Linked DNA regions of Homo sapiens: region 1 is linked to region 2. The links come from fine-mapping of genetic effects on gene expression. Tissue or cell type: putamen. Region 2 holds a variant in brackets; the other region holds the start of a gene. All regions are shown on one strand. Distances are from middle to middle.

Region 1 (5,145 bases), 61 kb after region 2:
GTGACTCACGCCTTTAATCCCAGCACTTTGTGAGGCAAAGGCGAACAGATCATGAGGTCAGGAGATCGAGACCAGCCTGACCAACATGGTGAAACCGACCAACATGGTGAACCCCGTCTCTACTAAAAAAAAAAACAAAAAAAATTAGCCGGGCGTGGCAGTTCATGCCTGTAATCCCAGCTACTTGGGAGGCTGAGGCAGGAGAATCACTTGAACCTGGGAGGCGGAGGTTGCAGTGAGCTGAGATTGCACCATTGCACTCCAGCCTGGGCAACAAACAGCGAAACTCCGTCTCAAAAAAAAAAAAAAAAAGAAAAAGAAAAGATAGCTTGTTACTCAAAGTTCCCCTAAAACAGGGAGTACACCAAGGTGGGCCACACAGGAAGCACCACAGTTGATGGGCAGGCAGAGGGAGAGGGAGGAACTGTGGGCAAGGGCCTCTATTGTGGTTTCCAACGCTGGGCAGGCTTAGGACTGAATAATTAAAGTGGATTCTGGGGCATGGGCTGTCCCTAGTTGTCTGGTGCGTGGCCCTGGAGAGATTAGGGCAGGTGGAGTATAAGAGCAGATTAAGGAGGGAGTTGAGGGGGTTGGGATTAGTTGACTTGCATTTGAAAAGCGTGCTTTCAGAAGAGTTATTTACTATCATGGCTGGGTGAGGTGGCTCAAGCTTGTAATCCCAGCACTTTGAGAGCCCGAAGTAGGTGGACCATTTGACGTCAGGAGACCGAAATTATCTTGGCCAACATGGTGAAATCCCATTTCTACTAAAAATACAAAAAGAATTAGCTGGGCCTGGTGGCGCATGCCTGTAATCCCAGGTACTTGGGAGGCTGAGGCAGGAAAATCGCTTGAACCCGGGAGGCGGAGGTTGCAGTGAGTGGAGATGGTGCTTTTGTACTCCAGCCTGGGGGACAGAACGAGACTCTGTCTGATAAAAAAGAAAAAGAGTTGGCCAGGTGCAGTGGCTCACACCTGTAATCCCAGCACTTTGGGAGGCCAAGGTGGGCAGATGACAAGGTCAGGAGATTGAGACCATCCTGGCTAACACGGTGAAATCCCGTCTCTACTAAAAAATACAAAAAATTAGCCGGGCATGGTGGTGGGCGCCTGTCGTCCCAGCTACTCGGGAGGCTAAGGCAGGAGAATGGCGTCAACCCGGAGGCAGAGCTTGCAGTGAGCCAAGATCGCACCACTGCACTCCAGCCTGGGTGACAGAGTGAGACTCTGTCTCAAAAAAAAAAAAAAGAAAAAGAGTTATTTACTATCGGCTGGGCGCGGTGGCTAACACCTGTAATCCCAGCACTTTGGGAGGCCAAGGCGGGCAGATCACAAGGTCAGGAGATCGAGACCATCTTGGCTAACATGGTGAAACCCCATCTCTACTAAAAATATAAAAAATTTGCCAGGCGCAGTGGCGGGCACCTGTAGTCCCAGCTACTCGGGAGGCTGAGGCAGGAGAATGGCGTGAACCCAGGAGGCGGAGCTTGCATCGAGCCAAGATCGCGCCACTGCACACCAGCCTGGGCGACAGAGTGAGACTCCGTCTCAGAAAAAAAAAAAAAAGTTATTTACTATCTATAGGGACTGGGTAACCCTGGGAGGGTTAGTCCCTCAATGGTCAGCAAGGGCCCAGATTACACAGCACTGGAATACAGAAAATAAATGACATGGTTAATCCACCCACTGTGGCCAGCCCTGAGCAAATAGGTCCCATCTTTGCATTTTCACAATCCTCAGGCTGGCATTATGCTTAACTTTATGTTCCAGATGAGAAAACCGAGGCACAGTGGGGGGAAGTAACTTGGCTGAAGTCATGCAGTTAAGAAAAGCAGGAGCTGGGATTCAAACCCAAGTTCAAAACCACCTCAGCTACTTGGAATCCTGGCAAATTAAAGGTTGTGATAATGTCAAGGGCTGGCGAGGATGCGAAGTCACAGTAAACTCTCTTACTCTGCTGGTGGAAGACCAGATTGTTACAAACACATCAGGAACCCTGGCAGACCTAGTAAAGCTAAATGTATTCTTTCCTTGCCGTCTGGCAGCTCCATTCCTGGGTGTCTCTCCAGCACAAATGAGTGCACCAGTACACCAAAAGACATCGACAGAGACATTCACAGAAGTTGTATTTGTAATGGCCAAAGACTGGAGAGCATCCAAATATCTAACAATAGGAGAATGGAAAACCTGATTACAGTGCATTCACACAATGGATTACACACAGCTATGGGCATGAATGAAATATTGCTGCACACACATGGATCACTCCCATCATGTTCAACAAAAGAAGCAGGCACAAAAGAGGGCACACTATCATTCCACTTATAGTTAAAGTTCTAGAGCAGGCACAAACTAATCTAAGGTGATAGAAGTCAGAATGATGATTCCCTTGAGGGTGCATGTCATTAACTGAGGGGCCTTCAGGGGAGATGGAGGTGTTCTTTTTTCTTTTCTTTTTTTTGAGACATAGTCTCGCTCTGTCGCCCAAGCTGAAGTGCAGTGAAGCAATCTTGGCTTACTGCAACCTCCACCTCCCGGGTTCAAGCGATTTTCCTGCCTCAGCCTCTCCAGTAGTTGGGACTACAGGTGTGCACCACCACGCCCAGCTAATTTTTGTATTTTTAGTACAAAAAATATGGAGTTTCACCATGTTGGCCAAGCTGGTCTCAAACTCCTGACCTCAAGTGATCCACCTGCCTCCGTCTCCCAAAGTGCTGGGATTATAGGCGTAAGCCACCGCCCTCAGCCGAGATTTTCTAAATCCTGATCTGGGTGGAGGTTGCAGGGGTCTGTGTGTGCGTGTGTATGTGTGTGTGTGTGTGTGCGCGCGTGTGCGTGTGCGCGCACATGCATGCATGCATGCTTGTGGGCATACATACATATACATAAAATCATCAAGCTATGCACTTAAGATTTATGCACTTTACTGTATGCTAGTTGTACCTCAATAAAAAAGTAGATTTCCACCTGCTATAACTGCACATGAGGACTTCTGGGCTCCTATTCTTGGAAGGCCTTGTGGTGCCAGGACCCTGACATTTGGGAAGAAAAGGCTTGGCCATTGGGCCCCAGTCACCGCCCCTCCTTCCTCAGTCAATAGGCTGATTTGCATGCTCTGTTGTGGTCCAGTGGCCTTCCCAGCCCTGTGCCCCAAAGCACCTGGAGCATATAGCCTTGCAGAACTTCTACTTGCCTGCCTCCCTGCCTCTGGCCATGGCCTGCCGGTGCCTCAGCTTCCTTCTGATGGGGACCTTCCTGTCAGGTGAATCTTTCCTGGGCCTCAGTCACCTGGGTGTGGGGTGGGGAACAGTACTGGCCCCAGAAGGCCCCTGCAAGGAGGCAAATCGATGGGGACAGTAGGGCAGGTCCTGGGAGGGGTATTTTTTTTTTTTTTGAGACGGAGTTTTGCTCTTGTTGCCCAGGCTGGAGTGCAACGGTGCAATCTCGGCTCACTGCACCTCTGCCTCCCAGGTTCAAGCGATTCTTCTGCCTCAGCGTCCTGAGTAGCTGGGATTACAGGCATGCGCCACCACGCCTGGCTAATTTTGTATTTTTAGTAGAGACAAGGTTTCTTCATGTTGGTCAGGCTGGTCTCAAACTCCTGACCTCAGGTGATCCGCCCACCTCAGCTTCCCAAAGTGCTAGGATTACAGGCTTGAGCCACTGCACCTGGCTGGGAGGCGTATTCAGGTAGAGGGGTGACCTGGCTTCAGACAGCTCTGCCCTTGACCTGGGGCAAATCACTTCCCTGTGTGGGCCTTGGTTTTCTCATTCGTGAATGACCAGATCACTAGAGCCCTGGACTCTGACTTTGGGTCTCCTTCTTAGTTTTTCACAGGGGAAGCTATTGTGGGTTGGTCCCTACCCCACAGGGCCTGAGGCAATCTAACCTCCCTGAGAGGGTCCCTGCAGCCAGTTGCCTGAGGCTGAGTTGATGTGTGGGACAGCCCAGGAGGTTCCTGGGGGTGGTTAGTCTGTATTCAGGGTTTGGAAGAGCTGAAGTGAAGTGGGCGGGGAAGTGGGGGAGAGGGGTGCAGTTCTGCAGAGAAACGTGGGTGGGTAGCAGAGGGACCTAGAGGCTGCTAGTCCAACCTTCTGAGCTCTGGGCCTTTAACTGAACACAGATCCTTGAGGATATGGCACTAATGGAGATTTGGGGGCTAACTCCAAACCCCTCACTCACAAAGGGAGATGGAGGTCCAGATAGGGCACCCTAAGTCACACAGAACCAGGCCTCCTGCACCCCGTTCATTGCTAATCCCATAGCACTGGGCTATGAGCCCTTTGGGACTGGGAGTCTCCATGGAGTCCAACCAAGCCTTCACAGGGCAGGGGTGGGAGGGAAGGGGCTCAGGCTGAGTGGGTTTGTGTCTCGCAGTTTCCCAGACAGTCCTGGCCCAGCTGGATGCACTGCTGGTCTTCCCAGGCCAAGTGGCTCAACTCTCCTGCACGCTCAGCCCCCAGCACGTCACCATCAGGGACTACGGTGTGTCCTGGTACCAGCAGCGGGCAGGCAGTGCCCCTCGATATCTCCTCTACTACCGCTCGGAGGAGGATCACCACCGGCCTGCTGACATCCCCGATCGATTCTCGGCAGCCAAGGATGAGGCCCACAATGCCTGTGTCCTCACCATTAGTCCCGTGCAGCCTGAAGACGACGCGGATTACTACTGCTCTGTTGGCTACGGCTTTAGTCCCTAGGGGTGGGGTGTGAGATGGGTGCCTCCCCTCTGCCTCCCATTTCTGCCCCTGACCTTGGGTCCCTTTTAAACTTTCTCTGAGCCTTGCTTCCCCTCTGTAAAATGGGTTAATAATATTCAACATGTCAACAACAGCTATTGTGAGGGTCATAAGATCCTGGCTGAGAAAAATGACTGTGGTGGGTCTGGGAGTCGAAGACCCACTCCTGGGGTGGGGAGCAGTGTGCGGGGGAATGGGGATTCTGGGGACTGTTGTCAAAGAGGAAGCACCTGAGACTATTGGGGCATGGCCCAGACTCCCCCACCATGGCCCCCTGGGGGCTCAAACTGGTAGCCTGACCTTCCTGTGACCTGAGGAGCCGGAGGGAGAAAAAGGAACCAGCCCTTGCCGCCCCCAACTCTGCATGGCTGGTTATGGTCCAAGGGTTATGGCTCTAGGGTGGCT
Region 2 (5,145 bases):
GCTCATGCCTGTAATCCCAGCACTTTGGGAGGCTGAGGTGGGTGGATCACCTGAGGTAAGGAGTTTGAGACCAGACTGACAAATATGGTGAAACCCTGTCTCTACTAAAAATACAAAAATTAGCCTGGCTTAGTGGCGGGCAACTGTAATCCTAGCTACTCAGGAGGCTGAGACAGGAGAATTGCTTGAACCCGGGAGGTGGAGGTTGCAATGAGTCAAGATCGAGCCACTGCACTCCAGCCTGGGCGACACAGTGAGACTGTCTTGACTAACTAAATAAGATATTTAGTTGTTTGTTACTTGGGGGACCACAGAGGAAGTTGCTGGTGATTCCCCCACGTTATTTTCCAAAATCTTAGTAAAGTGCCACGGAGAACCACAGTGGGAAGAAGTCGGCCCAGGCTCCATCTGGTGCACGGGGCAGAGGCATCCCTCAGTCACAGGAGGCATCCCTCCCGAGGCTCCTCGACCCCAAAGACTATTTTCAGGAACCCTTTGTAACATGGCTCTTATTTTTATACATCAATGTTTTCCTAAAATGGAAGCCAAAGGCACAGCATCAGATCTAACCAAACCACTGACCTTTTTAGGGTCATCACATGTGCCAATTTCACCTACTTCTCATATCTTCCTATTTTCAAAGCTCCCCTCACCCTCAAGGCATAGTCTGGCAGTGGCGGCTCAGCACAGCAAGGATTATGCTATAGGCTCTGCAGGGTGCAGGCCTGCGCCCAATCGCCAGCCTCACCATTTCTCAACTGGCCAGTTTGCAACTTCCGCAGGTGATCTCAGCTCTCCACGTGCCCACCTCTTCACCTGTAATATGGCCACTAAGGCAGCATCTTATTGGGTTACTAGGCCCCCCTGGAGCACTCAGCCTGGCCCAGCCAATCAGCTGCCTTCACCTCCTCTAGACCTCCGGGCTTTGCTCAGAGCCTGGCAGTGCCTCAGAGACACCCCCTGAATGTGTCCGGAATATAACACTTTACTATGAGAACTCAGCCTATGCCCTTCCTGGGGGATTGCAGGGAGCAAAGCCAGGTGTTATGACTTTCCAGATGATATGGAACCCAAAGACGGGCTTCTGCTGAGGCCTTGGTGTACCCTCAGTGCTCCATGATGACACCCACCCTGAGGGCCAGGAAGGCTCCAGTGCTGGGTGAGAAGTCACCTACCTTGATGATGACGCGCTGGTCTGACTGGTCCTCCAGGATGCTGTCCGTGGGGTAGGACTCGATCTGCTGTCTGATGGCAGAGGCGATGGCTGGCACAAACGTCAGCGGGTTCAAATCCAGATCGTCACAGAGGATTTCTGAAAACATCTCAGGCGTCATCAACTTCTCTGAAATCAGGAGAGGGAAGGGATGCCAAGAGATTGCACCATGCTTGGGCATGGACCGGCCTCCCTCACCCCTTCTTCTTTGAAGCCAAACATCTCCGGATGCAGGAGAGGACAACCAGGGCACTGGGGGTGGCCTTCCTGGAAACTGGGAGTGGAAGGAGGAAGCACATGACTAGCAGGCCCCCAGCCCTCATCCTGCACAGACCTCCTGCTCCATGCCCTGGGGGTGGTCATGGCCATAAACACTTCCCTCATTCCACTCATAGCTGGGTGGGCGCATGAGATTATCCCAACTAATGAGATGATCCAGGCGAGGCCAGCAAAGGCACATCAAAGCTTGCGTGCCATCTCTCTACTCCCCTCTGTGCTGAACTGGTGGCAGACGTGATGGCACAGAGGCTGGCCCAATACCAGGCCTCATGTGAGCAAAACACACTGTGCCAAGCCACAGCGATTTCCAGGCCTGTGACTGCAGTAGCAGCAGCAGGGCCTCAACAAGGTCACAAGCGTGGAGGTCCCTACAGATCCCGGATCCTGGAAAAGGAATTGTACCAGATGGGAGCTCACAGGGACCATCTGTGGCCAGCCAGACCTCAGCAAGGTCCTCTCAGTCAACATTCTCTCCCTGCTCCACCCAGACC[G/T]TACTGACAAGACGCCTTGCAGGAATAAGCTGAAAAAGCCAAGAAAAATTGCCTCAGAGCAGACAGTAGGATTCCATCATCAAGAAGCAGGTCGGCCTAACAGACCACAGCCCCACTATCTCCTCCCTGCCCTAAAGACACGCTGGAGACCAGCATCCTAACAGCCTGCGGGGCAGCAACAGCAGGAACCTCAGGTGCACGGGGTAAACACCCAGTGAATACACTGCCCAGAGCATTTTAAAATTTTTAAGTAATTGTAGATTCATGTACAGATGCAAGAAACAACACAGAGAAATTCCATGCACACTGCGCCCAGTTTCCTCCAAAAAAGACAAGATAGAGGACTGTATCTGTATCCAGTGATTCATCCAGATTGTCACTTCCTTTTACTGCCAAGTGACATTCTGTGGTACGAAGGGGCCTCACTTTAACTATTCACTCACTGAAGGCTATCTAGATCATTTCCAGTTTCCCGCTATTATAAATAAAGCTGCTATGAACATCCACGTGTAGGCTATTGTATAAACATGTCTTCATTTCTCCAGGATAAATGCTCAAGGTACACTGGTTGCATGTTTAGTTTTTTGTTTGTTTTGAGACGGAGTCTCGCTCTGTCGCCCAGGATGGAGTGCAGTGGCGCTATATCGGCTCACTGCAAGCTCCGCCTCCCGGGTTCACGCCATTCTCCTGCTTCAGCCTCCCGAGTAGCTGGGACTACAAGCAGCCACCACCACGCCCAGCTAATTTTTTGTATTTTTAGAAGAGACAGGGTTTCACCATGTTAACCAGGATGGTCTCGATCTCCTGACCTCGTGATCCGCCCGCCTCGGCCTCCCAAAGTGCTGGGATTACAGGTGTGAGCCACCACGCCTGGCCGCATGTTTAGTTTTTAACAGAAATTGCCACACTGTTTTCTAGGGCAGTTTTCCAGCCACTTTACATTCCCATCAGCAGCTTGTGAGTGACCCAGTTCCTCCACATCCTCGCCAGCATCTGATGCTGTCACCACTTTTTAAAGATGTGGAATAACAGTGTAATTTTAATCTGCATTTCCCTAAGGCTAACAATGTGGAAAAGCTTTTCAATGTTTATTTGCCACCTATATAACTTCTTTAGTGAAATTTCTCTTCCTGTCTTTTGCCTTTTTTTTTTTTTTTTGAGACGGAGTTTTGCTCTTGTTGCCCAGGCTGGAGCGCAACGGCGTGATCTTGGCTCACAGCAACCTCGGCCTCCTGGGTTCAAGCAATTCTCCTGACTCAGCCTCCCAAGTAGCTGGAATTACAGGCATGCGCCACCATGCCCGGCTAATTTTGTATTTTTAGTAGAGACGAGGTTTCTCCACGTTGGTCAAGCTGGTCTCAAACTCCTGACCTCAGGTGATCCGCCCACCTCAGCCTCCCAAAGTGCTGGGATTACAGGCGTGAGCCACTGTGCCCAGCCTTTTTTGTTGTTGTTGCTTTTTTGGGACAGAGTTTCACTCTTGTTGCCCAGGATGGATTGCAACAGCGTGATCTCGGCTCACAGCAACCTCTGCCTTCCAGGTTCAAGCGATTCTCCTGCCTCACCCGCCCGAGTAGCTGGGGTTACAGGCATGCGCCACCACGCCCAGCTAATTGTGTATTTTTAGTAGAGACGAGGTTTCTCCATCTTGGTCAGGCTGGTCTCGAACTCGTGATCTCAGGTGATCTGCCCACCTCAGCCTCCCGAAGTGCTAGGATTACAGACGTAAGCCACTGTGCCAGCCTACTTGCCTATGATTGTCTAATTGCTCCAGTGCCATTTTGTTGAATGAGCTGTCTTTCCTCCATTGAATCACATTTGCATCTTTGTAAAAATCAGGAGGGCACGTTTGTGTGGGTCTGTTTCTGGATTCTCAATTCTGTTCCATCACGGTATGTCACTCCACCAATACCACACAGCCTTGATTATCGTAGCTATATAGTAAGCCTTGAGATTGGGTAGAATGATTACTCCCACTTTACTGTTTTTCAAAATTGCTGGCCGGGTGTGGTGGCTCATGCCTGTAATCCCAGCACTTTGGGAGGCTGAGACAGGCGGACTGCCTGAGCTCAGGAGTTTGAGACCAACCTGGCCAACATGGTAATACCCTGTCTCTACTAAAAATACAAAAATTAGCCAGGCATGGTGGCGGGCACCTGTAATCCCACCTACTCGGGAGACTAAGGCAGGAGAAACGCTTGAAACCGGAAGGTGGAGGTTACAGTGAGCAGAGATCATGCCACTGCACTCCAGCCTGGGCAAAAGAGCAAAACTCCATCTCAAAAAAAAATAATAATAATAATAAATAAATTGCTTTAGCTATTTTAGTTTCTTTGCCTTTCCATATAAATCTTAGAACCATCTTATCTACAAAAAAAATCTTGCTGGGATTTTCACAGAAATTGCATTAAATCTGTATATCAATTTGGGGAAAACTGACATCATCTTGAGTCTTTTAATCCATGAATATGATATGTCTACTTATTTAGGTCTTCCTTCATTACTTTCGTCAGTGTTTTATAGTTTTTGGTATATAAGTCCTGTAAATGTTTTGTTGGATTTATACCTAAGTATTCCTTTTTTTATTGAGTGATGATAAATGGTAATGTATTTTTAATTTGTGTCTAGGTACTCATTAATGGCATATAGAAATAAAATGGATTTCTGCATGTTTACCTTGTATCCCTTGTATCTTGTGACCCTGGGGAATTCAGTTATTAGTTCTCCAAGTTTTCTGTAGATCCCTTGGGATTTTCTACACGGACAATCATGTCATCTGCAAATAGGATTTTATTTCTTCCTTTCCAATCTACACGTCTTTTATTTCCTTTTCTCAGCTTACTGGATTAGCTAGAACTTCCAACACTATGTTGAATAAGAATAGTGACAGCAGACATATTTGGCTTGTTCCTGGTCTCTGGCAGAAAGCATGCAACCTTTCACTATTAAATGCTAGCAACAGAAGGCCAGGCTCTGTGGCTCACGCCTGTAATCCCAGCACTTTGGGAGGCCGAGGCGGGTGGATCACATGGTCAGGAGTTCGAGACATTCCTGGCTAACACTGTGAAACCCCGTCTCTACTAAAAATACAAAAAGTTAGCTGGGTGTGGTGGCAGGGCACCTGTAGTCCCAGCTATCAGGGAGGCTGAGGCAGGAGAATGG

What was found. PIP is the estimated chance that this variant, and not a neighbour inherited with it, causes the effect.
Region 1: it holds the start of VPREB3, and the variant in region 2 is fine-mapped to the expression of VPREB3 in putamen (GTEx, PIP above 0.99). The same link has a PIP of 0.9 or more in nucleus accumbens.

The regions. Positions count from the first base shown.
Region 1 is chr22:23,752,432-23,757,576 of GRCh38, reverse strand. It overlaps VPREB3 (V-set pre-B cell surrogate light chain 3), which reads left to right and starts at 3,152. Exons shown (of 2, transcript NM_013378.3): 1 at 3,152-3,262; 2 at 4,379-4,834. The coding sequence starts at 3,214. The coding sequence ends at 4,701. RefSeq lists a silencer at 3,060-3,109 and enhancers at 2,729-3,229, 4,006-4,679.
Region 2 is chr22:23,812,967-23,818,111 of GRCh38, reverse strand. SMARCB1 (SWI/SNF related BAF chromatin remodeling complex subunit B1) reads right to left here. Exons shown (of 9, transcript NM_003073.5): 6 at 1,176-1,342. Among named protein-coding and RNA genes, the nearest start is that of DERL3, 23 kb to the left of the region's middle. RefSeq lists enhancers at 1,179-1,680, 1,681-2,182. The variant G/T (reference allele first, on the strand shown) is at 1,984.